2 separate regions of the Homo sapiens genome follow, and region 2 is linked to region 1. The links come from fine-mapping of genetic effects on gene expression. Tissue or cell type: whole blood. Region 1 holds a variant in brackets; the other region holds the start of a gene. All regions are shown on one strand. Distances are between the middles of the regions.

Region 1 (2,759 bases):
CATTTGTACATGTTTATTGGCAATCTCAGTTCCCTTTTCTGTGAATTATAAACTGCTATTCCATGTTCTTAAACCATTTTCCTAATTGTTAAAATTAACTGATATGTAAACACTCTTTGTATATTAAGTAAATTAGTTCTTTTTCTGTCATATTTATAATTATTTCCCCCCAGTTTATGTTTACAAAGGGTTTTTAAATTCCAAGATCATAAGAAATAAGCTACATTTTCTTTTAGTGCTTTTAAGTTTTCATTCAATCCATTTGGATTTTTTGGCAGAGGAGGAGAGATGAAAAGAGTACAGTACGGAGTCAGCTTTGTATTTTTCCAAATTGCAGAAATATTATGATCATAAATTGACTCAATTATTACCGTATAGTATTCTGCTGGTATAAGAGGGGTGTGTGTGTGTGTGTGTGTGTGTGTGTGTGTGTGTGTACTTTTTTGCCTTTGTTTTTCCCTTCTTTCTTATTTTGTCAGCAAGTTAGGATTCGTATCAACACACACAACAAAGAGTATAATGGAAAAAAACACTCAAACTGAAGCCAAAAGCCCTACATATTCACATCAGCTAGAACCACTTATTAGCCATGTGACATGCAGTAAATAATTTATTCTTTCTGAACCTCAGTTATCTCATTTAAGATATGTGTAGATAATGTGGATAATGATTTCTCTTCCTACATCTCACACAGTTGTGAGAATCAAATGCAGTAATCTATAATTTCACATCTATTTCATAAACTGCAGTACAATACAAATGTGAAGGAGTAAGATTGTAGACACACAGCTTTTTTTGCAGTGATATGACATGCATTAGTTCATTTTATGTAAATTATTCATCTGGTTGAGATCAGGAAAGCTATTCTTGAATACACTCTTCACTGGAAGAATACAAAGATGGAGTAAATGTGTAGAAATATTTTTTCTATTAAGATAAAGCATTTTAATGAATTTAAAATGTTATCATGATGCAATTAGATACTTCAATTGGGTTTTAGTTCATAAAACTAAGGGATCCTTAATTGGCCCATGGCTGTAAATCTGGAATAGGAAACTCTAATCGATAGCTAGACTGTATTGATTAATTAATGGCTTGGAGTCCAGTAATTTCTGAGAAGTTGTCATATCCACATAGACCATATTTTAAAAGATTGTAATTCTTTATTATCTGGAAGTCAGTTTTGACTCTCCTCTTCTGTTTCAGGCCAACAAATGTGTATTGAGTTCCTCAA[T/C]AGGACAGTCATTGTGCTAGGGAATGAAGATACAAAGATTGTATCCTGGAGGAGCTTTCAATCTGCTGCAGTAAGCAGACATATGAAAAGATAAATTCAATAAAAAAGTTAGTCCTAGAATAAAGTATGCAGAGTTGGACTCAGGTAGTTGGGGGGTGGGGTAGGCACTTAGTCTAGGATGATATGTGGGAAGAATACCAAAAAGAAGGGAGGGAGCATGTAACTCCTGACTTGGGTACTGTTGCATGAGGATGAACTAGAAGTGAGCTTGACAAAAGACAGGGTATAGGAAAAGGAAATGGCATTTGGGTTAGAGGAGACAGTAAGATCAAAAGCAGAGAAATATGAAACAGTATGACAAGTATAATACTATAAAGAAGACTTTTGGCAGGAGTGACAGGAGGTAATATTGAGAGGGAAAGACTGGGCCATGTTGCCTTTTGTGCGGTAGCTAAAGATTACAGATTTATAGAAGTATTACATACATAGGCAATGAGATATGAAAATTGCAGTTTCAATTGAGACACCTAGATAAAACAGATTCTGTATACCAAAGTCATGTATCAGATCAACTGCAGCATTTACAAAGGAAATGTGTTAGAACCAGTTCCACTACCTTGATCCTCTCAGTTATGTCAAGACTATAAAAAGTGGTCAGAGAATGGAGAATGGGAAAGATTTTGTGAGAAACAATTTTTGAAAGAAGTTGTGAGGCTCATCCTCCTGCTACCTACAAGGGAGAAGGGTAAAAGATACATAGAGGGCAGGGTTTGATTCCATCTGGGAAATCTAGATGATGAGAAATGACCAACTAACTGTTGGTGGCAGAGCAAGAGCATTGATGCTTTTGGATAAGCCTGTAGTCCTAGAGGTTGTTAGGGCAAAAGATTTGTGGAGGTTTCCTGCGGACCATAAGACTGCATGATGAAGAAACCAAAGCATCAAGAACTCCTTTCTAGAAAGGATTCGCAAGTGAGCACTTGGAAGAGAAATGCATCTGTCAGAGTCAATGAAACCATAGGTGAGAGCTCCTCAGGGATGATAAATCTCTGAAAAAGTCCCCAAATCACCCCATGAGAGAAAAGTCAGCTTCAAATTTCTGTTAGGCTCAGTGAGCATTATGGAAGGCTAAGATAGACTTTGTTATCCTCTTTCTCATCTTTTTGTTGCTTCACCTTCCCCAAAACCTGGAGGGTGCCTAAAAACATGGTGAGTAGGCTACAGGGGAAGAGCAGATGAGGAGAGAAGTAAGTAGTCTATCATACTTTCTTCTCCAAAGGCAGGCAGACTGCCTGTAACTGGTTTGGCTGGGGCAAGTGTGTAGTTTTGATTAGAATTTTGTAATATCTTAAACTGGGCCTGGTGCCACAGCTCATGCCTATAATCCCAGCACTTTAGGAGGCTAAGGCAGGAGGATTACTTGAGCCCAGGAGTTCAAGGTTACAGTGAGCTATGATGGCACCACTGCACGCTAGCCTGAGCAACAGAGCAAGACCTTGTCTCTTAAAAATATATATATATTCAA
Region 2 (2,759 bases), 67 kb before region 1:
GCCTCGGTTTCTCAAAGTCCTGGGGCTATAGGTGCATGCCACTGTGCCCAGCCCAGTCCTGTGCTTAATTTTGGAGTCAGAGCCTAGACTGGGCCTGGGGGTCTCTGACCGTGCGGAAGCAGAACTTGTCGGGGCCATCACCTCCCAACCTCATGCTTTTCAGTGTATTCACTGAAAAGCTTTTAGTATTCAACCTAAGCTTGAATACTGTCTCACCTCTGCCTGCGGTGTAGTCCTGAGCATGCTGTTTCACTTCTCTGAGCCACAGTTTCTCCCCTGTGAGCCAGTGAAAATGACAGCCCTCTCCCTCACGTCATGTGGTTGCTGTGAGGAGGGGTAGGGGGTGAGTCTAGCAAAGCCTGCCTGGTCCACAATTTCCAGCTCCTTCTCCCTCCTCACCCGCTTCTTCCCCATCCTTCCTTTCTGCCCCTTGCTCCTCTGACCCTGAGGACCCAAGGGGTCTAGCCTCACCCTGCCCTCTGCTACCCTACTCTCTTTCTCCCCCAGCAGCCAGCCCCAAGGATGGGTTCCTTCCCTCCCCGATCTGCTTATTAATTACCAGATCCATGTTGCCTTCCTCCTAAGTTGCAGGAGGACCTCTGAAGATGCTCTGAAAAATCAACTTGCAAAAGGCAGATTAATTGGAGGAAAGGCATACACATTTATTTAACATGTGTATGTGTCCCCGGGAGCCTTCAGAATGAAGACCCAATGATAGAGGGAGACATTGTTCGTTTTTATGCTTAGGTTCAACAAAGTGTGGGCAGCTGTGTAGAAATATGATTGGACAGAAGGGTCTGATCTAATGTGAATAGACTGAGTGGGGAAACCCAGCCAGGCCTGTGGGTCTGGATTCTTCTTGGCCCCTCTGAGCATGAAGTCCTTCCTTCTGGGCGTGGAGCAGGGCCCTCTCTGGAATGGGGGATTCTCATGACCTACAGTCAAACGATGATCCCTTCAGATCATTTCTTTACAGCCAGTTTCTACACAGCCAGGCAAGGGCAAGTTAGAGTAATATTTTTAGGTTTTATGGCTGGCTTTGGCGAAAAGGGGTTCTAGTTCCTACGGCTGGCCTTGGGGAGAGTGGGGCTGAGAGACAGGAAGGCAGGAGAAGGTAAGAGAAAAACTTGTGCTTCTGGGGCCTTCATTTTGGGACACTGTTTTCTGAACCCCCACACAGGGATCTCTTCCGCATCCTCCAGGCCGCATCTCCAGCACCTCACACCCTGCTGGCAGCGACAGACACTGGGTAAGTATTTGTTTAGTAAAATCCAGCAGTTTGGGTGGCAAAGAGGAAGAGAGGAAACAGCAAGGAATGAAAGGCCAGAAGGTCAGACGCAGCCTCTTCTACAGTCCCCGCCAGCTCCGGGGTCTTGTCCCGTGCCCAGCCAGCACCCAGCCATCGCCCAGCCAGTGCCCAGCCATGCTGCCCCGGGCGCTGCTGCTCTCCTTCTGCGCAGCAGGTGAGGCCCCCCAACCTGGAGGAGGGTGCCTGGCTCCATGCTCCCCCGGGCTAGAGGCTGAGGGAAGGGGGCGCACCCCTGAAGTTCCCAGATTTCCAGGTTGGAGGGAGGCAAGGTGGAAAGAAATGAATGCTTTTCAACCCTCAGAACAGGGTTGGGAAGGGAGCTTCGCCCTCATCGCCCCTAACCAGACAGTACTCAGCCAGCGTCCAGAAGGCAGCAGTCAGAAACAGTGCGGCTCCAGCAGCTTTCTTTCTAGCGGGGCTAAGACATTCCTCAAAGAGACGGCCGCGCAGGTCACTTCAGAAGCATGTGCAATGCAGGGAAGGACATCACCGGGGTGTGGACAGGGACGGGCGTTGTGGGGGTCTGTGGACCAGGGGGCGGCAAGGGTTCTCGGAGAAAGGGAGCCGTGGGTGAGCCTGAGGGGGAGAAGGAGCCACCAAGAAAGCCAGGAAAAGCCCTGGCTTGGAGGGTGGCGGCTGCTGATGCAGGTGGGAGGGGAGGGCGCAGGGCCCCATGGCTGCGACCCACATGGCGGTGGGTGGTCAGGTTTTAGGCCCTCTGGCTGCAGAGTCGGGGCGTGTGGGGACTGCCGAGGGTAGAGGGGTCTTGGGCCCAGGTGTCGGCAGGCAGGCAGAGAAGGGCTAAGTTCAAGGCCATGGAACTGACTAGAGGCTCCCGGGTAGGGCTGGAGAGGCCGGCGGGAGGGGCGCCCTGCATGGGGCTGGGGTGCCAGGGGTGGACACCGTCCTAAAATCAATTATGCGGGCCACAGCCAGTCATTAAAAAAATAAGCAGAATGCTTTTCTCAGTGACAGGAAGCATCCTCCCCTACGGTGGGTGTGAGGAGCTTGTTCTCCTTGGCAAGTGCCTCCTCAGCCCTGGCCCCTGGCTTCCATGCCACGGCCTGTGCCCAGCTCTCCAGTCTCATTCTCCTCTCCTGGGGCATTTAGCTTGAAGGGTTCCTTGTGGCCCAGACCCCCAAGGTCCCAGCACCAAGCCCTTCATTCTTCTCTGCCTCCCTCCATAGGCAGGGCCTGGGCAGACAGAGCAGCCCTGGACCAACCACATTTACTGGGACCAAGAGGGTGGAGTCAAGGAAGGAAGGAACACAGATCTTGGGGCTTGGGTTGGCTTCCTGGGAGACGTTTGATTTGCTCATTAGTTCCTCCCTCTCTTTCCTTCCTCCCTCCCTCCCTTCCTTCCTTCCTTCTTTCCTTCCCTTCTCTTCCTTCCTTTTCAATACATTGAGCCCTTGTGATGTGGCTGGCATCATGCTGGGCCCTGGGAATA

What was found. PIP is the estimated chance that this variant, and not a neighbour inherited with it, causes the effect.
Region 2: it holds the start of CLEC20A, and the variant in region 1 is the best candidate, but not a certain one, in a credible set for the expression of CLEC20A in whole blood (TOPMed, PIP 0.53).

What each region holds. Positions count from the first base shown.
Region 1 is chr1:178,428,586-178,431,344 of GRCh38, reverse strand. The region is part of intron 5 of RASAL2 (RAS protein activator like 2); the gene reads right to left. Among named protein-coding and RNA genes, the nearest start is that of CLEC20A, 67 kb to the left of the region's middle. The variant T/C (reference allele first, on the strand shown) is at 1,235.
Region 2 is chr1:178,495,604-178,498,362 of GRCh38, reverse strand. It overlaps CLEC20A (C-type lectin domain containing 20A), which reads left to right and starts at 1,399. Exons shown (of 8, transcript NM_001395331.1): 1 at 1,399-1,463. The coding sequence starts at 1,424.